Linked DNA regions of Homo sapiens: region 1 is linked to region 2. Evidence: fine-mapped expression QTL. A gene starts in region 2. The other region holds a variant in brackets. All regions are shown on one strand. Distances are between the middles of the regions. Region 1 overlaps ACADSB (acyl-CoA dehydrogenase short/branched chain). Region 2 holds the start of ACADSB (acyl-CoA dehydrogenase short/branched chain).

The links. PIP is the estimated chance that this variant, and not a neighbour inherited with it, causes the effect.
Region 1: its variant is fine-mapped to the expression of ACADSB in whole blood (TOPMed, PIP 0.95).

Annotation. Positions count from the first base shown.
Region 1 is chr10:123,056,416-123,074,102 of GRCh38, forward strand. ACADSB (acyl-CoA dehydrogenase short/branched chain) reads left to right here. Exons shown (of 11, transcript NM_001609.4): 11 at 1-1,875. Among named protein-coding and RNA genes, the nearest start is that of ACADSB, 56 kb to the left of the region's middle. RefSeq lists an enhancer at 11,523-13,803. The variant T/C (reference allele first, on the strand shown) is at 8,699.
Region 2 is chr10:123,004,164-123,016,435 of GRCh38, forward strand. It overlaps ACADSB (acyl-CoA dehydrogenase short/branched chain), which reads left to right and starts at 4,843. Exons shown (of 11, transcript NM_001609.4): 1 at 4,843-4,908. The coding sequence starts at 4,867. IKZF5 (IKAROS family zinc finger 5) reads right to left here and starts at 4,632. Exons shown (of 5, transcript NM_001372123.1): 1 at 4,531-4,632; 2 at 2,863-3,013. RefSeq lists enhancers at 3,909-4,138, 4,419-4,748.

The DNA.
Region 1 (17,687 bases), 55 kb after region 2:
AAGACTGGCCCCCCTGATTCGATGACCTCCCCCTGGGTCCCTCCCACAACATGTGGGAATTCCAGAAGATAAATTCAAGTTGCAATTTCAGTGGGGACATAGCCAAACCATATCACTGGTGATGCCACTTCTTCAGTATTAGGGATTCTCAGTCAGAAGAGACCCCCTGTGTGGCCTGAGTCCCCTCAGGAGGAAGGTGGACAACAGAGAAATGAGAGTTTTGATATTTTCTGAAAGAGGAACATGTGTTAGAGATGAAGAATCTTCCAAGGCTCATGCAGTTGCTTAGAATAATCATTACTGTTATATGAGAAACATTTTAGTAATTTAATAAAAGGATAATGTTTATTTAAAAAACCTGACTTTTCCAGAGTAATTTTGTTTTGCACATTCATGTTTATTGAAGTGGACTAATTTCTATAATGCAAATCAGAGTTAAATATTAAAAATTGTGTAAATACAATTGACATAGGAATTACATTAAAATATTAGGAAGAAACAAGGACAAATTTAGACCTTGAATCCGAAGAGATAAAGCTTACTTGACTTTCAAATGGAGAGATGATGAAAACCCACTCATTCACTCTTTCAGAACAAAAAGACAGTCATCTGATAAGAGTATGACATGGATGAAATGCCCTACAGGGGCCTTGGACATCTTTAATTTCTGCGATTATGTGAAAGAGGTGGACTTTACAGATAATGGAGCAGAAGCCAACATTAGTAAAAGGAATCCCAACTTCTTCCCATAGAATTAGAAACATGTGAAAGTACAATAAACTTCTTGTTCAAATTACCAGCATCAGAGAGCTTCCCATTTGCATCTAGACCTTGAATTTATATTTATTGATCAAGTTCTAATTTGTATGTATATTTTGTGCATATTCACCAATAACAGTTAAAATTAATTATGTGTTATAGTTAATATATGCACCTACCTTCTTCCGTTAGTGCATCAGTAAATGTGTTATTTTGTCATTTTTCCAAAGAGAGTGTTGTAGGTTTTCCCTGTAGTTCTTCCTTTATAGCTTTTCTTCTGATAACCATGACTTCAGGAGCTTTAAAACTATCTATCTTGCATTTGTGTCTGGCGGAGAACTAGCCATCAGCCTCCTGAAGCCTGCCATCATTGTTAATTTGAGGACTGGGCTGTCTTGGGGCTCAGAAGATAAAGAACTATTTGAGCAGATGTGTGTGGGTGGCACTGGATTCCACCCAACTGCCAAGTTAGTATTGTTAGAGATTTCATTTTACAACACAAAAATAAGCCTGTGTCAAAGATTTTAAAATCATGGAAAGTTAAAATCTAGAAAGACCTTAGAGAACCAGCCAACCAACTCTCTCATTTTAAAAGTGAAGGATTCATAGCACAGATTACTTGCCTAAGATCATCCAGGAACGAAGACAAGAATCCAAATGTACTTGGGGACAAGAATTAGTCCCCAAATTCAGTGTTCTTCCTAGTATTAAACATTGCCCCTTTCGACAAATTTTGGATTTCATTCTTGTTATATTTCAGTACTCTTGCTGATTTATTTTAGGTTTAACTGGTAAAGAATGAACATTTCAGAAGTGTTAGGATTAGTCAGTGTCATCGCTTATGTATATGAATCACTTGCCAAAGACACTGGCTCTCCTCAGCTGTAACCAGCATGTCAAATGTGAAGATTATTGTGTGGGATCCTTTGGTTTCATTGTTATGATGTATTTTATAAATGTACTAGTTATATCCTTGTTTATGTATTTTTGCTGATCTTTCATAAAGCAGAATGGTATGTATCGGATTGTTTTAATGTTATATATTGGATTGTATTCGATGTTACAAAACCAATATTCTATGGAGAATGAAAAAAATAAAGGACTAAATTAACTGGAGATTTTTGGTACTCTTATAAAGCAAAATTGTTTGTTATACATACAGATGAAATAAGAAAATAATGTAATCTTTCTGTAAGATATATACATCTTTGTTTACCAAACCAATAGCTTGCCTCTCACATAAGCCAATTTTGTTTGTTTTCAGAGAAGAGGTCTTATAATGTAGACTGAGTTTAAATTCATGATACTAAAGAAAATGTTGCCAGAGGACCCTTTTTTTTAAATGGCAAAATAAGCAGCTCTTCAGTAGAGAGTTCACCTCTTTTGAGCGTATCCTTGCTGTACAGATATTATCTGGCTGATATGTATGCCTGTGCTTTATAGTGTTACTTTTAGAAAATGTATATTATTGCACTTTTTACTCAGTGGTACACTGTAGCCTAAGGCTATAGGAAATTTCAACTTATCTTCTCCCCATTATCCTCTACATCATTTTAGAAATCTAGGTATTAGTCCCTTTTTTTTTTCCTTTGTCATTCAGCAACATGTAGTGAGTGGTCGCTATGTCCAAAGTGCTGTGGACGCTGAGCCACCATGCAAACATGAATAAGAACAGCTCCTTGTTTAAATGTGCGCCCATTCAGGTGTCTTTTCTATTCATCACAGAAAGATTGAGTAGAAAGCTACCAAGGTCACCCCTATAAAGAAATATTTCTTTACATCCATTAGAATGATAACAGTAAGCGCTGACATCTCTTGAGCTCCTACCATGTGCTAGCCATGATTCTAGACTCTTGACACATATTAACTCACAACAGCCCTATGAGGGAGGTGCTCTTTGTTATCTCATTTCATAGGCAAGGACACTGAGGCATAGAGGTGTTAGATAAGATGCTTATTCATAGATGGCAGAAATGGAACTCAAACTCCAGCAGTCTTGCTGATGAAGGCCCTCCTAGATTTATTCTTTTGGGTCTAAGTCTTGTTTATCTTCAGGAGCCTTCCAGTAAAATACCACCACCAACTAGTCCTTTATTCATTAATAATTCTTCATGAATGAGTTTCAGATACTTTGAGGCAGAGAAACTAGCTGAGAATGGGACCTTCGAGACGAACGGGTGTGGTGGAAACGTGTGTTTGGAGAGAAGACCTGGCAGAGTAGGTAAAGCAATGGGAAGATGCAGTTAGAAGGATGAGAAAAGCACTGAAAAGAAAACTAAGGAAATACCAAATAATCTCACTCTAGAGTTTTGCCTGGGATTTGCTATGTGCCATGTTTGATTCTTGATCTTAAAAAGATAAAAATAAGTAATTTCTTGAGCCCAGGAAATTTGAGACCAGCCTGGGCAATGTGGCAAGACCCCTTTTCTACACAAAAACACAAAAATTAGCCAGGCATGGTAGCACATACCTGTAGCCGCTGCTACTCGGAGGCTGAGGTGAGAGGATCGCCTGAGTCTGGGAAGTCGAGGTTACATTTAGGTGTAATTGCATTCCAGCCTGGGAGACAGAGTGAGATCCTGTCTCAAGAAAAAAAGAAAAAGAAAGGAAAAAAAAAAAAGTAAAGACTCAAAGTTACCCTAGGGTGGGGAGAATGACAAAAAATCATGATAGAAATCTGAGTGGTGGCTACGCAATTATTTATACAGATAGCTCACAATATAAGGAAAAAACCTTATTTTTTTTAAAAGAAATCAAGGTAAGTAGAAAATAAGACGGGAAGATAGGCAAACATAGTATTATTTGTAGTTGCAAATGGGTTAAACTCAGATGTTCAGATGGTGCAAACGAAAAATTTAAATCCCAGCTACATAAAGTTAGAAACACCTAAAACAAAACAGCACAATAAAGTTGAAATAAAGAGATGGAAAAAGGCCATACAAATGCTACAAAAAGGAAAGCATGAATAGCAATGTTGATATCTAACAAAACGGAATTAAAGGCAAAAATAATTTTAAAGGATATGTCATAAAAAGGAAGAGTTCACCAAAAAAGTCCAGCAGTCACAAACTTTATGTCCCTAACAACATAACTGGGAACTACATAGAGCAAAGCGAATAGAAATACAATGAAAAAAATTGACAAAGCCATAATCATAGTTGCTGACTTAGAAATCACCAAGTCAAGTGGAAGGTAAGAACAGATGTAGAGGATTTGGGTGGCGTAATTAACAGGTTTGATAGAACTTTTTTGTTTCTTTTCAAATGCAAATGAATGATCATTAGAATTTTGTCTCAAAATTTCTACAAATTCCAAAAAGATAAATTTTACAGGCGGCACTCACTGTACACAATGATAAGTAAATATATAAACAAAAAAGATAGGATATAAAAAAGCTAACCACGCCGGGCATGGTGGCTCATGCCTGTAATCCCAGCACTTTGGGAGGCTGAGGTGGGCGGATCGCCTGAGGTCAGGAGTTCGAGACCAGTCTGACCAACATGGTGAAACCCCGTCCCTACTAAAAATACAAAAATTAGCTGGGCGTGGTGGCGTGCCCCTGTAATCCCGCTAGCTACTCGGGAGGCTAAGGCAGGAGAACCTGGAGGCGGAGGTTGCAGTGAGCCAAGATTGCACCACTGCATTCCAGCCTGGGCGACCGAACGAGACTCCATCTCAAAAACAAACAAAAAACTAACCCTAGACTTTAAATAACCTGGATTAATTAATAAATAAAAATATAAAATACAAATTGTTGGCCGAGCATGGTGGCTTACGCCTGTAATCCAAGCACTTTGGGAGGCCAATGCGGGTGGATCTTTTGAGATCATGAGTTCGAGACCAGCCTGGGTGGCGAAACCCTGCCTCTACTAAGTAAAATACAAAAATTAGCCAGGCGTGGTGGCTCGTGCCTGTAATCCAAGCTACTCAGGAGGCTGACGCAGGAGGATTGCTTGACCCTGGGAGGCAAAGGTTGCAGTGAGTTGAGATCACAGCACTGCACTCCAGCCTGAGTGAAAGAGCAAGACTCCATCTCAAAAACAAACAAACAAACAAACAAAAAACAAATATTGACAATGATGTGACAAGCCCAGGTCTCTTGAATCTTCAGTGCTTCTGGGAGGGGGTGCAAGAAGGCATGTCAGGGACATCCAGGGCAGCATGGTTTGTAGTAGTGAAAAGTTAGAAATGGCTGAGTAGGAGAATAAATAGGTAAATCATCGAAAACGCACACAAAAGCCGTTTAAAAAAAATAAGGAAGATCCGTGTATGGAGATGAAATCATCAAGTCATATTGTTTAAGGAGATAATAAGTCACGCAGTATTTGTGCAGAACAATACAAAGCTACATATATTTCTGTAAATACAAAGGTGTATAAATTCTTAGAAAAAAAACTTGGAAATTAGCCAGGCACAGTGGTGCACACCTGTAGTCCTAGCTACTCCAGAGGCTAAGGCGGGAGGATCACTTGAGCCAAGGAGTTCAAGGCTGCAGTGAGCTATGATCATGCCACTACACTCTAGCCTGAGCAAGAGAGTGAGACCTCATCTCTTAAAATATAATAAAATAAAATACAGAAAAAAGTGGAAAGTGTACTGCCACACCAATAACTGCATTTAACTCTGGGGGCCTGTGCTGGCACTGGAGGTCATTAGCATCATCTATACTATTTGAATTTTTATATTAGGAATATATTCTTGTATTACTTGTGTAATAGGAAATATAAAATTAAAACAACCTACTAGGCTACTGATATCTTTTACTTTTGTGCATCATTCTCCCTTTAACTGATTTTTCTACTTTTCTCAAATAGCCACAGTGAAATCGGCAGCTCTATTCAGCCTCACGGGAGAGTAGACTCTGACATAGAGAGCACAGAAAAGAGATCTGAAACCTATGAAGGTTTGACCTCCCTAGGTAAATAGCACTGTTCAGGTTTAAATGCTTGTCCTAAGCAAAGCAATGCATGGCTTGCTTTGCCAAGCAGAACTTCACAGAGAGGGCTTTTTGCTTTCAGGTATAAATTGGGCCATTTGCACTGGCTTGGGATTGGGATCTTGTCTTTAGTTGTGATTTGATTTTCTATGATTTGACCCAGAGTATTCAAATGTAATATTTCCTTGAACATGAAGCATTTGCATTAAGGAAAAAGGAAAAATTCAAAACTTCTACTCAAGTCAAAGGACACAGGTCCTTTGTTTAAATTGGATGGACAAAGTATGGCCCATGGGCCAAATCCAAGCCACTGCCTATTTTCGTTATGGCCTACAAGCTAAGAATGTGTTTTTATGTTTTAAATGTTATATAGTTATGTACAGTATCCTCAATTTTGCCACTTTCCCACAAAGCCTAAAATGTTTACTCTCTAGCACCTTTAGGAAAAAGTTTTCCAACCCCTGATTAAATGATTGCCTCTAAATCAAATTTTGACTGAAAAGGTTGGTCAGTCTGTCTTGATGTCATACCGAAAGAAGAGAAAGAGAGAAGACTTCCCCTAGGAACTTGAGCCATTATTCTCTCTTGATTTTCTTTGTAGACTTTCTAGCCCTATGGGCTCCCTGCTACAACCTACAAACATGATTGTCTTCCCTTACCCGCAGTTTCAGTTACCTGCATCAACTGTGATCTGAAAATATTAAACAAAACTCCAGAAACAAACAACATACAAGTTTTAAATTGCACGTCGTTCTGAGTAGCATGATGAAATCTTGCACAATTCTGCTCCGTCCCAATAAGAACGTGAATCATCCCTTTGTCCAGCGTATCCATGTTGTCTGCTCTACCCCCTTCTTGGTCATCAACACTGTCTGCTCTTGACATCCCGCCATCTTCATTGTCATGCTTGGTGATCTAGGATCACACAAAGCAGAGGCTCCATCTTCTGAGACGTTGTCAGAAGGTCGATAGTGGCTGAATCACTAGTAGGCACATCACAGTGCCTACGCCATTCACACAACTTCATCCTATCCCATACACATTTTACCATCTCACACCATCACAAGAAGGGTGAGTATGACAATGAGACAATGAGAAAGAGAGAGACCACGTTCATATAACTTTTCTCTTTCTCTTTAGAACCAAAACAATGTTCTCAAAAGCCATCTTTTTACCTTTAATTGGTGGCCTATTATATTTGTCCCAATTTATATAGTTTCAGACACCCCTCATCTTCCTACAGGCTCTGCTCCTTTGACAAAGCACCTCCTCTTTTTCACTGACTCTTCGTTGGCTTCTTTGGCCTTAAATGGAAATTTTTTTATCAAGACTCTGCTATTGTGCCTCTTCATTCTCTATACAATTGGTTCTAAACCTCACTGTGCTTTTAGAATAACTCCAAGAGACCTCAAAGTGCACACTGTGGAATACTATTCCCAGAGTGTTCCAGTCATTGGCTATAGTGTTTATTTTTAGATCTATCTAGCAGGCTTTGGAAATTTATATTTATTTATTTATTTACTTTTGAGATGGAGTCTCACTCTGTCGCCCAGGCTGGAGTGCAGTGGTGCGATCTCGACTCACTGCAACCCCCACCTCCCAGGTTCAAGCAATTCTCCTGCCTCAGCCTCCTGAGTAGCTGGGATTACAGGTGCCCACCACCACGCCTGGCTAATTTTTGTATTTTTAGTAGAGATGGAGTTTCACCATGTTGGTCAGGCTGGTCTCGAACTCCTGACCTCATGATCCATCCGCCTCAGCCTCCCAAAGTGCTGGGATTACAGGCGTGAGCCACCGCACCTGGCTGGCTTTGGAAATTTATGTCTAAAATGCAGGTGAAGGATGAGAGTAGGAGACAGAGATCAGGAAGTCTTACGTAAGTCTGGTAGTATAAAGGTCAGATGAAGTACTCAGGAAGGACTGGTCATCTCCTGGGCTTTCTGCCCCCAGATCACTTGAGATGTCTGTAGAAAGGCACATTTCCTGACCTATGAGTCTTATCTTTGGGGCTGGGGCCTAGGAATCTGCATGTTTAGTAACCTGCCAAGGGATTTTCATCGCACACTAAGACTTGAGTAGTTGCTCAAAATGATTCCATCCCCAAAGTCCACGTTCCTTTCCAACTTCTCCCCAGCACCCCAGTCCAGCAGGACCAACGAGGTAAACCCCAAGCTCCCTAGAGACCCACCTGCTTAGTGAAGAAGCAGAAGGGGAGCAGGCGAGCCCCTTCCCTCCATCCTCCTGAGGTCAGAGGTCCTTGCGGATCCCCATTCACTCTCCCAGTGTGAGGCAGAGAAGCCAGGCACCAACTGTTCTCCGAGTTCGGTGGAACCAAAAGCAATTTAGGGCAATGTGTTCACAGTTCTCCACCCCAAAATAGGAGCCTCCATGGGGCTTGCTTTAATGAGATTTTACTTTATTAGTTCAAGAGTTAATGAAGAAACTGCTGATAAGATAAATCACCTTAGGTGCGGTGTTTTGAAATCTAACCATTTCTCTTAGAAATTGATTTTTTTTCCTTTTGGATATGCAAACTAATGATGAAGTCATAGTAGGGATGTAAGTTTTGGTGCCTTTGGAGGGTCAGGACGTCTGAAGGGAGAACATCTGGCTGAGTGGACAGCTCTTCGAGCCTTACCTTATTTTACATTCTGTCTATAACAGAAACCCATCGCTGTAAAATGTACATACAGTTCCTTTACGCATTAATACTCCATTGTACCAACCCTATTGATTTTTCCAAGTAGACAAAGGCTAAGGATATGTTTATTGATTGTTGCTCAGTGCATTTTAAGTGTATTTTGTAATAAAGAGCATTTTGAGACTGAAACAAACTTTCCCTTAACCAATGGGCAAGTTGAAATTTTAATTAAATGTTACTAAATATTTTTTGTAAAAAATAAGACTATTCACAATTCTACATTCAATGTCCATCAGCTAATGTAGAGAATTACAATCACGTGCCATGCATGTTACAACTAGACCTATGGAGTTAATATAATG[T/C]AGGAGTAATGGGAATTACTAATATTGCAAAATGTTGCTCAGGCACCATGTGAAACTGTTGGAAAGACAAGCCAACTCATGGAACTTCTGGAACTGACCATTGGAACACAAAAAGACAGAAGGAGGGAAGAGAAGCCAAACCCTGAAGAGCTTTGGTGGAATTACCTAATTTGGGGTAAAATAGAAAGAACCTTCTCTTTCCCCAGCCCCTTTCTGGAGCAGCCTCCAAAAAGGCTGAGAGTAGGTGCTGAGAAAACATATCTGTCAGACGGATGGCCAGATAGGAAGCCCTGTTTGGTTAGTGCTTTTTCTTTAAAGAGTAGCTGCATAATAATGATTTCTCTTTTCGTTTACTCATTGTCTTTATTCGAGTGGGGGCAGCTAAGATTTGCTTGGGGACATTAAAACATCATTTGGAAAATCAACCTTTGGTATTTGCCAGCTCATATTAGTGGATTTGCAGTTTGATAAACCACTTGGATAGAGGGGGTGCCATCCTTGTCTCAGGTACCTCACGTGGCTTGAAACGGTGTCCACACTGGAAGAAGACATGTCCTCCATCAAGGGCATCCATGAAAATTAATGAGTGGTCCAAAACAATTCGTAAGGAGGGTGAGTCGGTTTAACTCCAAATGTGGTTTCAGAGTGGAGTGTGGCACCTGGGTCCCAGTCACCAGTGGGCTGCCACCACTGGTTCCACCTCCAAAGTAATTTTTAAATCTGTCCAGTCTTTATTCTCCACTAACACCATAGTCTGATCTAAGATATGACTTCTCACTCAGAACAGCACAATAAGCCTCTCAACTGGCTTCCAGCTTCCACTATTCCCACTGTTCGATCCACTTTCTATCTAACAGCCTGAGACATTCTTTCAAATGTAAGCTGGATTATACTCCTCTTCCATCATTTCTCTAGAAATGTGCTGTTCAATACAATGGCCACCAGCCAGCCATGTGTGTCTATTTAAGTTATTTTTTGGTCTTTTGCTATTTTATTCGGAGGATTATTGCATATATATTCATAATGAGAGTCATCTATTCTTCTTCTTTATGCTTTTAATCAGATGTTGGTTTTGTATTGTATTTCTTTATAAAACAATTTGAGAAATTATCTATATTTTTATGATTTCAAATACCTATCTAAATTTAAATGAGTTAAAATTTTTAAAAATGAACAATCCTTTCCTTGGTTATACTAGCCATGTTTCAAGTGCTCATTAGTCACATGTGGCCAGTGGCGACCATGTTGGGCAGCACAGACATCTAGCATTTTTGTTTTACCTGAAAGTTCTGTCCATCTGTACTGCTCTTGAAGATGCAGCAGTTTCTCCCTCAAAGTAGTAGGTGGTGCCCAGAGCTCCTGACCAAGCAAGCTGTATGGTCTCTAAGAACTTTGGGCTTTGAAGGAGTATGGCAAGCTTAATTTGGGGAGCTACTACTTTTTTTTCCCTTTTCTCTTCTCCCTATTCAAGCGGGCTCCAACGATTCTTGCCTCCATTGAGGTTGGTGGCAGCACCTCCTGACTTTTGTCTAAAAGTCTAAATCCATAGAGAAGGACAAGGTTTGAAAGGAAAGGAGGAAATTAAGTCCCATGTGAAGAATAAGGCCTGAGGAGAGAAGAATTTTCCCCAAATTAAAGAGAAATTTCCCTAGGTTGGGGAAAGAGAGAGAGAGATGATCAGGTCCCATAAGTAGCCTAGACTAGCACCCCAAGGAAGTGCATCAGAGGGCAAGAGGGAATGGCATGGGGGACACCAGGAAGCTGGGTCCTGGGCAGAGCCCTCCAGCCTCGCGAAAGATGTTGGACCTCAGGCACATCCCAAAGAAAGCAGAGAAGCTCGCCTGAAGAAAGCATCTGGGCCAGGAGAAGGGACCTCTCTCTCAAGGAGGTAAGGAGCATAGGAGGTGATGGAGGCTCAAGAGGCTCCTTTACACCATGGCCCTGGGCAAGGCCCCAGAACCCAGATAGAACTCCTGGGGGAAAGAGCCCTCACAGAGTTAGGTATTCCATGGAATTATTGGGTTGAGGGCTCAGAGTTGGTGCCACACTGATTGAGGGTGTAAAAGGATGTAGGGTGTGAATTTTACTCTTTCACAGAACTAGAGCTAGAGTTCAGAGCTGCTTATGGATCAGGCGGCCTTAGTCTTAGTATCCTTGGACAGTCCCCGCCTGTTATTCTTAAGATTTGCTTGCTACCCTCTTATTTTGTGTAGAAGGCATCTGAGCCCAGAGAGGCAAAGGCCCTTGCTCCCAAGTTCCCACAGCAGATGACTAAGAGCTTAGGCATTGACATCAGACTGCTGGAGTTTGGCTGTCTGCGCCACCACCTCTTAAGTGTACAACCTGCAGTGGGTGTCTCATGGCTGCCATGACAAAATACCTTATACTGGGCAACTTACAAGCAATAGAAATGTATTGCTCACAGTTCTGGAGGCTGGGAAGTCCAAGGTGCAGGGAGATAGGAATCTATCTGGTGGGGGCTCACTCCGCTTCATAGATGCTACTTTTTCACTGCTTCCTCCCATGGCAAAGGGGCCCACAAGCTCCCTCAGACTTCTTTTCTAAAGACACCAGTCCCATTGATGAGGGTGGATTCCTCACTGAGGCTCCACCTCTTACTACCACCACATTGGGAATTAGGTTTCAACATAGGGATTTGGGAGGAGGGGGACAAAAACATTCTGACCAAGATTGTGGTTATTTGACCTCTGTAAGGTTTTGTTTTCTTAAGGGTGAATGGGACATGATCATGACACTAATGCCCACTTTGAAAGGCTGCTGTAAGGTATAAGTTACACAGTGTGTATGAGCCTCAGCAGACTACTGAGTCGTTCCATAAATTACCAGCTGGGGCCACAGGCTGGCTCTCCTGGCTCCTCATTCAACATTCCTGCCTCATAATAAAGTCAAAGCAACTGCTAATGAGCAGATCAGAAAGTAAAGTTGTAAAACTTCTGAAGTCCCACTTTTTCTCAAATTACAGCAACTCCTTTAGCCAAGGGTAAAATACCCTGACCCACTTGGTTAGAGGTTTGCCATCAAGGCCACTGCCGCGTCTAGCTGTGCAGCCAGCAGAAAATGCGAAACCGTCCAAGCACTTTGGCTTCCACTCCAAGATGATCTGCATGACATTTGGGTCAATCAATCTAGAGATAATGATTCCTGCTGCAGAGCTGTGTGTGTCCAATCACACACACAAAATAAGGGTTCCCAATTGATTTTTGTGAACTGGTTTCATTTTCTCGGAAAGCATTTCAGGTCAATGGTGAAGCTAGGGTGCTGAGAGGAGGTGGCGTGTCTCCACCTAATTTTGCCCAGGAATGTCTGGCTCTCACTGTGCTCTGTGGAATAAAATTGGAATCATCAAGCCCTTTGAGGAATTACAAGGACATTTTAAAGCAGGACTTTTAATGCGGGGGAATAAGCATAGAGCATCTGCCTGGAGGAGATACACACATACACACACACATACACACACATACACATACATACACACACATACACACACACATACACACACACACACATACACACACATACACACACATACACATACATACACATACACACACGTACACACACACGCATACACACACACATACACACATGCCTACGTATACATATATATTCACATAGGTTTGTCTTTCCAGAATAAGTTTCTCACAGCAGCACAGTGACAGTTAGGAATCTGTGGGTACTCTTTTCCTGGGCTATTTTTCCACTTTAATGTGTGAACTTCATTTATAATATCCTCAAAATTAAAGCACAAGGAAACCTAAATGAATAGTTAAAGGGGTAATTAAAAATAGGCAACTGTCCTTGTTTCTCTCCTAAACTGGTTGATTTATGCCTTGTTGTGGTTTTTTTTTTTTTGAGAACACAAAACTATTAATTTATGTGTGAAAAGAACAGTGAATTAATCCTAAAGAGCCCTGCAGCCTTTAAAGACCTGAATCATATGTTGAGCTCATTTAAAACTTGCATAGGAAATTAAGGTAGAATAAAGCCCTTTAATTTGAAAAGTGCATCTATAGTTGCCATCCCTAGGATATCTGCAGGGTCATTATTCAGAAAGGTTAAGGAGGACTTTATTTTTTTATATTCACTATGTATTTCCCAGTTACAGCTCACCATGGTGCATTTCAACTTATAAAGAGAAGGAGATAAAAGGGGGGAGGGGAGCTTTTTATTCACTTTCCACTTAATTTCCTTGCCGCCACGCCAGTCCCAGCTTAATGAATGTAATTGCTACCTTTGATGAAAATACTATTATCAAGATCACACATTACATTGGAAAACAGTTTTTCTTTAAACACAGCTACTGCAGTCTCTAATTATGCATGTAACAAGTGTCTCCCAAACAAAAGAGCATGTTGTCTACAATTGCTAGGAATTGGAGCAAGGCAAATTCGAACAAAGGACAGATTAGATTTGCTCCCCGCTCCACAAAGCCCGTCCCTCTGATTAATTTCCTGCAAAAACTAAAACAATTCTCTTAAAAGGCGCTCGCCCCCTTCTTCAGAATGATCCATATGCCATTTGGGTCTTTCTATAGGATGATAATGGCCTCTGATTTGAACCCGTGTTAGAAAATAAGAAAGGGCTTTTATGAACTTCCTCTTTCATATGCAAATGGACAGCACAAGATCTTGAGGGATAATAAGCCCCCCAAAAAGTGACTTTTTAGTGGCTATAAAAGAGCTCATGGTAGGGGAAAGTCTGCATTGAGCCTGTTCAACCCAGTTATTTTATCAGCTTCAAGAAATGAGGCATCTCTGAGAAAATACCTCTGTGCCTGTTGAGACAGTGGCAACAGCTTTTCTGGGGTGGCCTTTCCTAAAAGACAGTTTCTTGACTTAGGAATAGAATTTTAAAAATGGATTCTGATTAAACAGCAAGTATGCTTGTTAAAGTCTTGTCTTAGGAGACCCTAGGTTTTAATTGCGCTTTGCTATTCATTTGGGAGACTGCATTGGGCAAGTTATCAGGCAAGTTGGGCATGATGTCCTGGGTCTTCATTTCTTTCACTTACCCAGTGTGAGAGGGGAGCGAGATGATCCTGAATGTGCAACTGCCACAATGTCCCCATTCTACCCCCAGCACTATTCAAACCCAGAAGGAAAAAACCAGCTTAGTCCCCAAAACAATATTAGTTATGAGGATGAGGTCTAGAGTCAGACAGCCTGGGTTCAAATCTCAGTTCATAATTTACCTCCTGTGTGACCTGGAAAACAATCATCTTTCTATGTCTTTATTTCCTTGACTTTATTTATTTATTTTTGGTGTTTCCTTTATTGTTTGTATTTATTTATATGTATCTCAACTTTTTTTTAGATTCATGGAGTACATATGCAGGTTTGTCACATGGGTATGTCGTGTGATGCTGAGGTTTGGGGTACAACTGATCCCATCACACAGGAAGTGAGCAGAGTATCCAAGAGTTAGCTTTTCAACCCTTGCCCCATTGCCCCCATTCCCCTCTAATAGTCCTCAGTTTCTACTATTATCATCTTTTTTTTTTTCTTTTTTTGAGATGGAGTCTTCCTCTGTCACCCAGGCTGGAGTGTGGTGATACAATCTTGGCTCACTGCAACCTCCGCCTTCCAGTTTCAAGCAATTCTTCTGCCTCAGCCTCCCGAGTAGCTGGGACTACAGGTGTAAGCCACCACACCTGGTTAATTTTCAGTAGAGATGGGGTTTCACCATATTGACCAGGCTGGTCTTGAACTCCTGACCTCATGATCCACCCACCTCAGCCTCCCAAAGTGCTGGGATTATAGGTGTGAGCCACTGCACACGGCCTATTGTTATCATCTCTACCTCCATGTTTACCCAATATTTAGCTCCCACTTGTAAGTGAAAACATGTGGTGTTTGCTTTTCTGTTCCCATGTTAATTTGATTATATTTCCTCAACTTTAAAATGAAATTAACACCAAAAGGACAGTGAGAATTAAATAAAAGCATACTTGTAAAATGTTTCCAACAATACCCAGTACCTAGGAAGTATTCAAGGAAGGAAGTATTCAATCAATTTTACTTGTTACTCTTATTATTTAAGACCTGGAAGACCACTGGTGCTTGATGAAATGAATTTCCCAAAGTACTGCCCGCTGTCTCCTTGAGGCCTGGGGAAATGGCAAAAGGGAAGTGTCATCTTGGATTGAACCTTATGTCTATCCAATAATGGGAAGGCTACCAGAACTCAATTTAAGGAGGTCGCAGTTAGGTCTGGAGCTGTTTTGGTAAAGCTCTACTGCATTAGACGTGAGTTGATTCTTTTCAGAGGCTCCTGCCAGATATGGTCCAGAGAGAATCAGCAGAGCAAACGCCAAATGAAGCAGGCTACCTGCACTGCTCTTTCTCATAGGAAAGAGGCTCTGGATGCATAAAAAGAGAAACACCACACTCCTGGCTCCTCATTATCTTAGGATTCATTACCTGCATCCAGATCATTTCCTTAGGGCAGTGAAAGCCATCATAAAGCTATGCTCACTAAAGAACCGAGTACCTATGAAAGTAGCACCCACCGGAATGTCCCCTTCTGCTGAACTCTAGCTGTCTTTGCTCAACCCTGATCATCTTTACTATCTGTCTCACTAATTGTCAGATGTTCCAACAATACTTTGCAAAGCCCATATAAATTGATGGCAAAACGAAACTGCAAATTGTGCCACAGTTGCAGGATTTCTTGGAGTTGTGAAAATGACGCTGGAGAGCCATTAGAATTCTATGAAAAGCCATTGACAAATGAGGATCTGGCCATTCTTGAGTTAAAGAAAAAAATGGGCAAGAGGGATGACACAGTCGACACTCAAAAGAGAATGATTTGAGTGCTGTGGGTGAAGATATGCCCTTGTGAAAATGCATGAAGCCTTTGGATAATTTTGCAAAAATGACACTCTAAGACCATGCTGTGAAAATCAACCACAAAGAATGGCCCACAGAGTGAGCCATCATACAATTTTGTACTGAAAAACGTATGCCCCCCTCCCAATTAACATTCGATTCATTCTTTGTTCAGTCTAAGATTATAGGTGCAATTATAGCCTTAGTCTAAAAATGAGATACATCTTTTTTCATAAATTTTAAGGCAAATTGTAAGTTTCAAGACGAACTCTACATCAAACCTCTTTTGTTTCCACCATTTATTACGAGAGGGTCCATATTTTAAAGAGATTTGTTTAAAGTGGAATTTTTCCTGCACCAATTTGCTAGTTCAGCAAGGACTTCATGTACCGTAGGTGATATCTTGGGAGCCGCAGGAGACAGTGCACACCCTTTTACATTAAGGCCTCAATGCTGCAGAGCTCCATCCCTTACATACTTTGATCAGTGTGAGCAGGACACACACACGCGCGCGCGCACACACACACACACACACACTTCACCTGCAGATTCCACACGAAGTCAGGCTCTCCAGGCCTGTGTTATCCTGGTAGGGAGGGCTTTCCCAGTTCAGGCGGCTTTCCCATAGCACAGGACTCTATGACTAGTGATCAGAAGGAAAGGGGCCAGGAGCACATCACAGAATATGAAGACCAACCTCCGCAAATCCCACCCTCGCCCACTGCCCCATGAGTCATAGAGAGAGTGATGGGGCTGAGAGTCAGCAGAGAGTCCAGAAATGCCCATTTGCATCCACAATTCTGTTCTCTCAGGAGTCTTCTGGCCCTCGAAGCTGTGTACCTGCCACCTGGTCCCGGCCACAGCCCTGGAGGAGGCCCCGGAGCACAGCAATCTCAATTTCTCAGAAGCAGAAGTGGAGGTGCTGGGACCAGCCCAAGGGTACCCAGTGCATGCAGAGAACCAGGGCAGCCTGAGCACAGATGGAGGGCTCCTCAAAGTACTCCCCGGAAAGCCCCACACATCCATCACTCTTCCCATTCCTCATGCTGCCTGGAACTCTGGAAATTGGCTGCTGAGATCGCTCTAAGGAGCCTCAATGGGGACACGGCATTACAGACAAGAGAGCTTTAAGGCGGCATCTCTGAGTCTCGATGGTCTCACAAATGACCGGCCATTTCCTGGTCCACTGGTCAGAGAATTAGCATACTGTGCATGGGAGCTGCCTCCATCTGTCTTCTGTGCTCCTCATTACCAGTGGCAAGGTGGAATCGGCACCTAACCTTTGAATCCATGAAGGGTAATGCCCCAAACACTCCTGAGTAGATGCACTCCCCTGTGACGGCCACATCGAGGGACTCTGGAACGTCCTCCGTGGGCCCATGCAGGCCACATCTGTGTCTGAGGCCCAGGGAGCAGGTGGACTCCACGAAGAGCAAGGGGTTGAGGAAGGAGCCCTGGCCTCTGCTGGTTCCATGCACTGTTTGTGGGGGACTCAGGCTGTTTGCTTGTCTTACCTGGCCTCATCAGTAAATCAGGGGTCTTCCTGGCAGGTCTGAGAGGTCTTCTGAGCTCCAGCTCCAGGGCTGCCTTCCCTAGAAGCCTTTTTTAACCCAGTCCTCACCTTCTCCCAGTCCTGGAAAACCAGCCACGACTCCATCAACTCCCCTCTGGCCTCTCACAGGCTCTGACCCAGCTCCCCCTGCCCTTAGCTGCATTCTCTGGCTCAGTTTCAGCAGCTTCCCCTGTTCACTCAGTGGGAGAAAGTGACCCTGGCTTCTTCCCTGTATTTGCTTCTGGCCACAGCTGCAGTCTGGGTTGGAGGACAGAATCTCCAGGGGAAGGAAAGGAAGATAAGGCTGAGAGAAGGCAGGGTCCCTAGGATGCCCTGTCTGCCAGAGGGCACCTTCTGACATTGGCTGGCTCCTGGAGCTGTGGCCTCTATCCTGCAAGGTGGCTGGTGTTTGTTGACAATGCAAACTGAGCCACCTGCGGCTCCCACCCTGGACAGGACTGGGGTCTGTGCAAAAGGACATTAGACCACTGCTGGGTGCCCCAAACAATTGGTTGCAAGGTGCTCTTTATAAATCTACCGGGTATGGTTTTTTATTGTAGATTGCACAGAAAGGCCCCATGGTGGGCCA
Region 2 (12,272 bases):
TTTTTAATTTGTAAAAGCTGTATAGCCCTACAGATTGTCTGCGTTCTAATTATAAAAGCTATAATTAAGAAAGAAATCCCAGTATTTACATTGTAACTTAGCATCACTTCTTGCCAATCAGTTCACATGAAAACTATACATTTCTCCTGGAAAATGTCTGAATATACTTTGACAGGCTTCTGGAAGCAAGATAATCCTTACCAAATCTTGATTAGAAAGCATAACGTTGCTACAGTACAACGTGACAGTGCAGTAAAAACACACAAGACTGCCAGAAAGCAAGCAGAAGAAAATGATATTTTTATACATGCATCTCAAGTTTAAGAACACAAATGAGCCTAATTACAGAGGATGGCTGGCATATTTTGACAGTCTTGGCTATTATCACATTGTCACATTATAAACTTCACTGTGTTCCTTGCCATAAATTGTGTGCTGCTTTTCAACCACAATGCATGATAAACTTAAAAAAAAAAAAAGCATGTCTATGAAATAGAGAACACTGTAACATTGCAAACATGAAGAAAAACTCTTCTTAAATTAGAATTTTAAATATATTAGTATGCTTTATAACCTTAAACATCCTGTCATGATTTAAAAATTAGGTGTCATTTCGTCCCTAAGCATTTTTGTGCCCACTTGACCTGTATGGCCTCTATCCCATATATCCATATACACAGGGTATGACAGGTGCTTGCAAAGCCCTAGTCTATAGTAGAGACATATATGAATGAAAGGTGCCTAAAGTGAAGTAGAGTCTTCGGCTCAAAACTCAGCTTTCTACATCTCAAGTCAATATTTCTAAGCATAATAAATTGAAAAATAGTAATAATTCTGAAACTGGGCTGGACATGGTGGCTTATGACTACAATCCCAGCACTTTCAGAGGCTAAGGTGGGAGGACTGCCTGAGCTCAGGAGTTCAAGACCAGTCCAGGCAACAGAGCGAGACCTCATCTCTAATTTTTAAAAGAAAAAAAAAATTTCTGGAACTACAAAAGACTTCCTCTTATAGAAAGAAAATAAAGGTTTTCTATCTGAGCCATTTTCCTGTCTTTGATGTAATTATCATCAGTCTCAAGTCTCAAAGTTTAATCTAGGAACTCCACAAATTAACTGATACCCAGAGATGCCTCTAAGGCATTGATAAATTTTAAAACCTTTGCAAACATAACAAAATATACTTTAGAAAATCCACAAGCTATAATTTTTTTAGTGGTATCTTTCCTATACTGGACATGAACTCAATACCTTGGTGTTTGTTAGCCAAAAAATTACTTACTTAACACAAAATTTCAATGTATGATATCATGTCATCTGAACAAGAAATATACTTAAGTATTCTCCAGTATTATTACAGATGTGGGTGGTGTTATTACAACTCAGATGTACTCTTTCTGCTGGTATCGTCATGGACTGAATGTTTATGTCCCCAAAAGCTGATATGTTGAAATTCTAACCCCCAATTTGATGGCATCTGGAGTGGGGCCTTTGAGAAATAATTGGGTTGTAAAGGTGAAGTCCTCTAAATGGGATTAGTGCCTTGTGAAGAGATCCAGAGATCTTGCTTCCTCTCTGCTCTTTGCCATGAGAGGATACAATCAGAAAGCAAGCCCTCCCCAGATACCTGATCTGCTGGCACCTTCATATTAAGATTTCCCAGCCTCCAGAACTGTGAGAAATAAATGTTTGTTTAAACCACTCAGTCTATGGTAATTCGTTACAGCAACCTGAACTAAGATATCTAATCATATCAACCAAAGAGAACAATATCCCCATACTTTATGATGATTGTTCCTTATGATATAGCAAAATTCCCAAATCCTTCCTGTGATTATTCTGATTAAAGTTAAGTTGAATATAGTATGGAATTCCATGGGGTGTAGGTGGATATCTATATAGAAACTGGCTAGGGTATACCTAAAGTATTGTCATGCCAGTAGCGTCCCCCAATTTATTATTCAAGGCTCAAAATCAATGCTTTCAGAAAACAACCAGAGGCTATGCAAGCCGGTAGGGGGAAAAGAGGTATAAGAGAATTAAGCTTTGATATCCCAAAGAACAGGAAAACCTCTACCTCAAGTAGGTAATTTAGGCTAATTTCCGATCTTCCTTGGTTTCTGATAAAGGATTTATTTTGTATGAAGTCGTCTGATCTTTCTTCTTCAGTCTCATAAATGGGAAGCTGTTGATCAATGCAAGCATATATACAAGCACACACACACAATTACATGTGTGTATATATGTGCACCCCCCCCAGCCTCTTAACCAGTAGCTAATAATTTAAAACACAGGCACTGAAATGCAAATTAGAAGGCATTCACAACTATGAAACAACCAGAGAAGAAGCTCTCTAACCTATCTTCCTTCTTCCTTCTATCTTTTTTATAAACTGTGGGAGAATTTTGAGAACATGATTAGGGAACAGCAGGATATGTTTCGTTCACCTAGCATTCATGAGAAGTCTTACTTCTCATAGGTAACCATAAGGAAGAATACAATATTAGCAACTAATTTACTTACATAATAATTTATGGGTAAGGCAGGCCTATACACATAAAGTGATTACAGTTCAATAGATGTGTTTACCCTCCATAGCCTAATAATTATGGTCACTGAGATTTACTCTGCTATAGAACACATATAAACAGACAACGTTGACAAATAAGGATTGGTTTCTATGGAGTAACATGGGCCTTCCAAAATAATTGGAACACAATTCCTGATTTCAGAACTGTCAAAAACTCTTGAAGGCAAAAAAAGAAATTATGAGGCTCTGAGAAATCAGAAATCAAAACATAAAAATAAAACATAAGTAAAACCATGTTGAAAGAAATCCAGAAGAGAAATTATACAATCTAACCTTTTCACCCCAAATCTGTTCCTCCTTTTTCTTGCCACTCCAACATTGATGAAATGTAGAGTAATTGAAATTTACTTCGGAGATACAGCAAGGGACTCCAAAAGGCCATGGAGAGAGAATTTCAACTAAAATTGAAAAGCCATACAGAGGTCTGCATAAAAAACAAACAGCACACCACAAATCAAAACCTTTAAGATAAAAACTTAATTAGCATCTACAGGTTGAATGAGCTAGTAACTTATGCCAATCTTATCATTACATTAGCTGAAAAGAAAACGAACTGACAGATTAATCAAAGAACAAAGCAGTAGCTTCACTTCAGCAAAAGCTCCATAGGATCACCAAAGAATAACTGGTGTGACTACCGTTTTCTCACTGGTGGATTAGTTTTTGGCAAGATTTTTAATGTCTAAATTTAAGTTAAACTTCAGTTTAAAGAAATTAAGATTAACTTCATTTAGTCACAGCACACTTCCAAAACGGTCAAGCTTAGTACTGCTGAACAGCTGTAGTTGCATAAAAACAACGCATAGTCCTAAGTAGGGAAATGGGAAAGGGCTTTAAATACAAAAACAAAAAAAACATGCACACCCGATAAGGGCACATCTGAATCCCATCCTTCTTATCCTATCATAACACAAAACAGCTACGGTTTTCTGGGAAACATCCTGGACCGCTAGGGGAAAATAACACCAGACATTTCAATTCACTGTAACGAACTCTCATCAATAATAATAACCTTTAGCTGTTGTGACAACACGACATAAATCAAAATTAAATTGAATTTTTAAAATTGTTAGTTCCTACGTTTAAAAAAAAGTTGTTTTAAATACATTCTGTTCTTTCAAAACTGAATTTCCTCAGATCACACAATTTAAGACGCCTTTATGTCTTCTTCCGCTTGTCACACGTCTTTCGGGTTCTGACCAGCACATCAAGGGGACTCTAAGCAGGCCACGTGGTTAGTGTTTGCTAGAACTTGTTTAGCTTCAGATCCAGTCATCGAGCATGCTAGGCTTGGCTACTCGCGCTCCACACAGTTTATCCAAAGATCTAAACCCCGAATGAACCTGAATAGTTATTTGCTACAATGTCTTTCTCAAATCTCACATGTTCCTAAAATAAGGGTGCCCATGCAGTAGAGACGGATCCGGGCAGGATCATTAGATAAAATACGAAGGCTTTAAACGTCCTTCTCCCAACAATCAGCCTGGGACCGGCGTCGGGGCAGCAGCCTCACCAAGATTCGGAGCGACATCCTCGCCAGGATTCGAAACACCTAGGAGACCCGCGCCCGGCTGACTCCCAGCCCCTGGGACCCCGTGAAGACGCAAACCTCGGGACGCCTCCCGCAGAACCACCTGTCAGAGCCAAGCAACAGTCCCCGCCCCGGAGCCTCCGAGCTCCTGCTCGAAGGCAATGACAGCAGGAGACCCCGCTCCCTCGGGGTTCTCGCGGCCATAGGCGCCGCAGTCCACTGCCCTCCGGCTAAAGAGGTCCCGGGCCATCACCTGCCCGCCTACCGACCACGCCCGACCCTCCACTGAACTGAGTCTCCGTCCGGATCAGCCGGCCCGCCACGAACCCAGCTCCAGTCTCCGGCCGCTCCTTCTTATCCGCCCTGTCCTGCCGCGTCGCCGCCGTCCGAGCCGGCAGCCTGCTACTTACCTCCTGACAACTGCATGGAGTAAACCACACCGCCTTGTTAAATGCCGTCGCCGCCGCCGCCGTCTTCGTCACCGTCACAGTCGCCGCCGCCATCTTTGTTGTGTCTCCGACTCCCTTCCCGCCCCCCTGCCTTGCTCAAGTCTCGCGTGAGCAGGATGGAGGGCGAAAGCGAGGAGGGGCCTGTTTGTCTCTCTTGGGGTTCCGTAGGCAGCAGGGGGCAGGGATTAAGGGGGGGTGTGTGCGGGGCGGGTACTGAGTGGGCGGGGCCTTGCTCGGGTAACTCCCAGGGGCTGGCTAGAGACCCAGAGGCGCAGAGCGGAGAGGCCTGCGGCGAGGATGGAGGGCCTGGCAGTGCGGTTGCTGCGCGGCAGCAGGCTGGTGAGTGCGTTCGAGGCTGGCGTCCTGGGGGCCCAGGGCGACCTTGGCCCCTGGAATCGCAGCTGGCAGAGCCTTCTAACGGGCCTCGGGGCGCCGGCCTGAGCCCCGCTCCACGTCCTGGGTCCCCAGACTCTTTACCCGCGGGCAGTCTATGACCCCGACCCCCTTCAGGCCTCTGGTGGAGGCAGCTGGTGGCAAGGGGGTCGGGGCTGTCTAGAAGCTGCTTTGGCGGAGCAAGTACCTTGAGTGGAGTCGGAGGGTCGCGTCCGCAAGATGTCCTTTGCAGGCCGTTGCGTCCTGAGAGCCACCGAGTCTGGATCTCTGGATCTCTGGATGCATTTTGCACAGATGTCACCTCCCTGATGCCCTAACGCACCTTTCCCGAGTGATTACATTTCACACCCCCTCCCCCAAAAAAGATAGTTAAAATATAGGCCCAGTCTCATTCTGAGCAGGTGTCTCCCTGTCCTTCCTTCCGCGGCCCCGCTCAAAGGTAGTAAGGGACTTCGGAGTTGTTCGGGCTTCCCGGCCAGGGACAGAGTTCCCTCTGCCCCTTATCTCATGTCTGGAGCCTGGGTATCTTCCGTGGATAGACTCACCGCCGCCCAGGGGAGCCGGAGCCGGTGCCGGTCCCTCTTCCATGAACTTAAGCTGAAACCAGCCTCTTGTTGTGCTTAATTCTTATCTGTGCACCCACACAAACTGTTAACAGCCCCTGTGTTAACATCCTATGCTCTTCACCCCTTGGACCTATTATATAGCATGCTTTTCAGAACATACACATTTGGATACACTTGTATTTGTCAGTACACTTCACTGGGAATTTTCCCACTGCTTACGTGTGCTTTTAATGTTTCCTTTGCATTTGCTTTAATGAGTTAGGCTTTCCAACTGCTGCTTCAGTCTTATGCCCAGAGGCAGAACTCTGACCCTTTTTCTTATTAGAGATAATTAATGTTATTTGACTGTTTTACAGGCCTGAAGTGCAATAAAAAACAGTAAGTGATTATTGTTTAATACTGTTTATAATTGTTGGTTAATAACTTAGCAAAGAAAATTTCTTTGGTTTTACAATTTGACTCTGTTTTAGAGCCAAAATTTATTGACCGCATACTCTGTGGTAGGCACGTTCTCGTTCTACCTGAGTCATCTCAATTCTCACAACCATCTTAACAAGTAGTTTAATCTTGCAGATGCTGAAAAAGAATAATAGCTTGCCCACAGATAGAAAGGGATAGAGCTGGTGGTATTCGAACTCTGGTCTGATTCTAAACTTAACCTTCATATACTACTGTCTCCCCGTCCTTAGAGATATCAAAAACCTATTTTGTTTGAACTTTTGGTTTATTGTGGCTTATAGTCCTTTATAGTTTTTGAAGCTCTTTTACATAAATTAGCTAAATTGATTGAACATCGACTGTAGCATAGTGGTTAAGAACGTAGGTTCTGTAGCTAGGCTGCTTGGATCTGAACCCAGGCCCTCTCACTTCCTAGTGGTATAACCTTGGACAGGTTATGCTTTGGGTCTCAGTTTCCTGGTCTGTAAATGGAGAGAATAATTGTGCGTATTCCAAAATTGTTGTGAAAATTAAATGAGCTCATATGTTCATGTAAGGCACTTAGAATAGTGCTCGGAATGTAGTCAGCTCTCGGTAAATATCAGCTCTTACTGCCATGCACGAAGCATTGTGTGCTATGCCAGATGTAATAATGAATAAAATACTCTACCTCCAAGAAGTTTATCTTTTAGAGGAAAGGTTAGAACTATGTGCAACTAACCCCATGTCATGTAGGTGTGGAACAAATCCTAAGGGGCTACAGTCTGCGTGCAGATTCAGAAGATAGAAATGACTAGGACCATTGGGGAAGTGATAGGCTCTTTGGAAGCTGGGTTAGAGTTTAGGAGGGGAAAGGAGTGGTCAGAAAACTGCAACAAAAGGGGACTGAGGCCACTTTAGGGAATTGGGGGTTGATCCTTTTGGATTGTTAGGAGCCATTGAAGGTCAAGAGCTTTGGAGTTTCCTCATGCCACAGTGTAGGTAGATGGCTGTGGACACAAGTGGCATGGAGTGGGGAGAAATGCAAGGTAGGGCTAATTTTGGTTTCTATCCAGAGGCAAATGGAAAGCTAGCATTTACTCACTTATTGTAGACCAGGGACAGCATTTTACACCCACTACCCTATTTACTCTTCCTGTAAACCTCTGAAGTAGGTATATTAGTGGCTTCATCTTGCAAATGAGGAACTCGGAGGCAATAACCAGTGTTCCCAAGTCACATAACAATCAGATTGCAATGCTGACCTTCAGCCTACCCCTGCCTTCTCAGAAGGTCTCTCCTAGTCCTGCAGATGGATTAGAACTGTCCTGCCCATTTGGTCTAAGCAACCCAATTAGTGGAGAATTGGACCTTGTAGTTAACCTGTGGTTCCAAAGCATTTTAATGTAGCTTGATATCTTTTTTTTTTTTTTTTTGAGACGGAGTCTTACTCTGTCGCCCAGGTTGGAGTGCTGTGGTGCGATCTCAGTTCACTGTAACCTATGCCACCCGGATTCGAGCGATTCTCCTGCCTCAGCCTCCCGAGTAACTGGGATTACAGGCGCCTGCCACCTTGCCTGGCTAATTTTTGTAGTTTTAGTACAGATGGGGTTTCACCATCTTGGTCAGCAAGATGGAAATGGTCTCAAACTCCTAACTTCATGATCCACCCGCCATGGCCTCCCAAAATGCTGGGATTACAGGCGTGAGCCACCACACCAGGCCGCTTGATGTCTTTTAAGAGATGATTTTTTTTTTTTTTAGACAAGTTTTCACTCTCTTGCCCAGGCTGGAGTGTAGTGGCGTGATCATAGCTCACCGTAACCTTGAACTCCTGGCTCAAGTGATTCTCTGACCTCAGCTCCCCGGGAGCTAGGACCACAGGCATGTGTCACTGCACCTGGCTAATTTTTAAAGTGTTTTGTAGAGATGAGGTCTCACTGTGTTGGCCAGGCTGGTCTGGAACTCCTGGCCTCAAGCGATCCTCCCACCTCACCCTCCAAAATGCTGGGATTACAGGCATGAGCCATTGCACCCAGCCAAGAGGTGATTCTTGACAAATATCCTTGACGTGAATTCTTGTTCAGTTAATTCTCTGGACATCTGCCAGACAGCAGCTGCCAAAATACATATAATTCTTGTTGTTTAACTTTTTGCTCTTCAACAAAACCAGAAGTATTTTTTCTGGACATATATTTGGCATCCAGGTAGAGAGAACACAAATGGTTTGAATGTGTCCCCCAAAATTCATGTGTTGGAAGCTTGATCCCCAGTGCGGAGGTTTTGAGTGGTGGGGCCTAATGGGAAGTGTTTGGGTCATAGTGTGTCCAGAATTGGTGGGTTCTTGGTCTCACTGACTTCAAGAATGAAGCCACGGACCCTCGCGGTGAGTGCTACAGTTCTTAAAGGCGGTGTGTCTGGAGTTTGTTCCTTCTGATGTTCGGATGTGTTCGGAGTTTCTTCCTTCTGGTGGGTTTGTGGTGTCACCGGCTCAGGAGTGAAGCTGCAGACCTTCACGGTGAGTGTTACAGCTCTTAAGGCGGCACATCTGGAGTTGTTCGCTCCTCCCGGTGGGCTTGTGGCCTCGCTGGCTTCAGGAGTGAAGCTGCAGACCTTCGCGGTGAGTGTTACAGCTCATAAAGGCAGTGTGGACTCAAAGATTGAGCAGCGGCAAGATTTATTGCAAAGAGCTAAAGAACAAAGCTTCCACAGTGTGGAAGGGGACCCGATTGGATTGCCACTGCTGGCTCGGCAGCCTGATTGGTCTGTTTTACAGACAGCTGATTGGATTGGTCTGTTTTGACAGGGTGCTGATTGGTGCATTTACAATCCCTGAGCTAGACACAAAAGTTCTCCACCTCCCCACTAGATTAGCTAGATACAGAGTGCTGATTGGTGTATTTACAAACCCTGAACTAGACACAGAGTGCGGATTGGTGCATTTACAAACCTTGAGCTTGATACAGAGTGCTGATTGGTGTATTTACAATCACTTAGCTAGACATAAAGATTCTTCAAGTCCCCACCAGATTAGCTAGATACAGAGTACCGATTGGTGCATCCACAAACCCTGAGCTTGATACAGAGTGCTGATTGGTGTATTTACAATCCCTTAGCTAGACATAAAGATTCTTCAAGTCACCACCAGATTAGCTAGATACAGAGTACCGATTGGTGCATCCACAAACCCTGAGCTAGACACAGGGTGCTGATTGGTGTGTTCACAAACCTTGAGCTAGACACTGAGTGCTGATTGGTGCACTCACAATCCCTTAGCTAGACACAAAGGTTCTCCAAGTCCCCACTAGACTCAGGAGCCCAGCTGGCCTCACCCAGTGGATCTTGCACCAGTGCCGCAGGTGGAGCTGCCTGCCAGTCTCGCGCCTCGTGCCTGCACTCCTCAGCCCTTGGGCGGTTGATGGGACTGGGTGCAGTGGAGCAGGGGGTGGCGCTCGTCGGGGAGGCTCAGGCCGTGCAGGAGCCCACTGGCGGTGGCGGGGAGACTCAGGCATGGTGGGCTGCAGGTCCCGGGGCCTGCCCCGCGGAGAGGCAGCTAAGGCCTGGCTAGAAATCGAGCGCGGCGCCGGTGGGCCAGCACTGCTGGGGGACCCGGCGCACCCTCCACAGCTGCTGGCCTGGGTGCTAAGCCCCTCACTGCCCGGGGCCGCAGGGCCTGCCGGCCGCTCCGAGTGCAGGGCCTGCCAAGCCCACGCCCACCCGGAACTCTAGCTGGCCCACAAGCGCCACGCAGCCCTGGTTCCCGCCCATGCCTCTCCCTCCACACCTCCCCGCAAGCCGAGGGAGCTGGCTCCAGCCTTGGCCAGCCTAGAGAAGGGCTCCCACGGTGCAGCGGTGGGCTGAAGGGCTCCTCAAGCGTGGCCAGAATGGGCGCCGAGGCCGAGGAGGCGAGGCACCGAGAGCAAGCGAGGGCTGCCAGCATGCTGTCACCTCTAAATAGGGGAACTGGCCTCGTAAATTATTAATGCTGTTTTTGAGAGAATGAGTTCCTCATTAAAGGACAACTTTGGCCTTCTCTTGCTCTCTCTTTCTCTCCCCTCATTTCTCACTCTCACCTTCTCTCACCCTCTTGCCTTTCTCTTTGGAATGACACATCTCTTAACCTGAGAACTTGGAACAGCTGACTCATAATAAATGTTCTTAAGTACTTAGAGCAGCTGACTCATTATAAATAATCAGTAAACATTAGCTATTTTTAAAATTAATTAATTAAGTTAGTTTTTTAGAGACAGGATCTTGTTCTGTCACCCAGGCTGGAGTGCAGTGATACAGATCATGGCTCACTGAAGCTTCAAAATCCTGGACTCAAGTGATCCTCCCGCCTTGGCCTCCCAAAGTGCTGGGATTGCAGGCATGAGCCACTGTGCCTGGACAACACTAGCTATTAATGTAGGCAGAACACATTACCAATAACTTTGATAGGATGTTTTAGGGTATCATTGCCTTACGCAAAGTACACAGGTAAGTTTTGGGGATCTGTAGGTTTACAACAGGGTTCTTGACATCAAAAAAAATTACATTTTTAATTGGGGAGGTAGGGTATCTGTTTTAAAAATGAATTTTAGAACAGTAGAAGATAGCATGTTGCTAATGCTAAATAAATAATATGGGCAGATATGCTTATAGGAGATGGGGCTTCAAGTGACCATTCAAAGGAGCAGTTTTAGGTAAAGCAGCAGAGGGGTGCGGATTCCAGGGCAAGGAAATGTGCACGCAAAGGTGTAGAGGTAGGAATATGCTCAGCTTGTTTAAGAAATAATATGCCACTATAGGTGATGTAACAGTTTTGCAGAAGGGTGGAATGGGTTCAGATGGTAACTGCCTAAGGGTTAAGTTTATCCTTGATCTCAAAGCAGTGAGGAGCTGATAGCTGCCAAGCAGTTTTGGCTTCTCCAATCTAGGAAGCTAGAAAGAATCACAGAGTGAAGCAAGCCTGGATTTCTTCTGCCAGTTCCTACATGGGTGTTGCCCAGACAGGGTTGCCCACAGTCCTGGAGAAGAGCCCTTTTATTTACCAAAACACAAGAATTTATAATGTTTACTACTCAACACAGAAATGGCAGTTACTTTGCACATGCAAATATATCTTTGTCTTCCGTTGATCTCTCTCTGGTGCTAGGAAGACTAAGTAACCATAAAGACACTCTCCCTGGCAACCATCAAAGAGTCTTTCTCCTTTCTCTCGGGATCCTCACACACTTGCCCTGTCTTGGGCCTACATTGTCGTTTTTGTTGTTGTTGTTCCTCATGCCACCTTGTCTAAGAAGGCCCACATTATCTTGACTCATTCTCTGTAAGGGCTAGACCAGGTTTTCTGTGTTTTGTAGGATGCTAAGCAGTATCCCTGGCCTCTACTCATAAGAGGCCAATAGCTTGCCTGAGCTATGACAACCCAAAATGTCTCCATCCATGGCCAAATGTCCCGTGGGGGCAAAATTACTGGACTGAGAACCACGGATGTAGACCTGTGTAACAGTGTACTCCATGAAGGAGGGGAAAGGTGGCCTTTCTCCTTATAACCTGGTAGGGAACTTTCTCTCTAAAACTATTTGCCATACTCAGTTTGTTGGCTATAGAAATTGATCTACAGTTTCAAAGATTTTTGTTGAAAGATTTCAATAGCAGCCATTGAGATTTTAAGGTGCTGTTTGCAAAGGAGTTTACAAGATAAAACAGTCAGCAGCTCACAAAAGGAACTCATCACGTGAGACTCTGAAGCCACATCCCACTTAGACCATTTCACAAGTCCACTTTTAGAGTAACAAGGCCCTCAATGAGGGTGATAGCACCGATGATCAGAAAGGAAGACATGTTAATAAAAGAAGACTTGAGAAGATGTGGGAATTATCTTGAAATGGAGGAATTAGATGGACTACACATTTTCTAAATGAAATAGCTTAGTGATAGGCAAAGATTGGGACATCTGGAGAAAAAGTAATTTAGGGTGACAGAAGAAAGGTAATTCTGTTTTAGACACGTTTTAGGTATTAATAAAACTTACAACTGAAAGTGTCTTAGAAGCTGGTCAGAAATGGGTCTAGAAAGTGGACCAGTGCTAAAGCTATGGTAAAAGGAAAACTTCATCTGAATTAAATTTAAAGGAGTTTAATTGAGCAGCAAATTGGGCAGCCCCCAGAACCACAGCAGATTTGGAGAGACTCCAGGGATGCCTTGTGGTCATAACAAATTTATAGACAAATGAAGGGAAGTGACAAATCGGAAGTGAGGTACACAGTGGCTGGATTGGTTACAGATTTGCAATTGTCTTATTTGAACACAGTTAGAACACTCAGCAGTCCATGAGTGGTT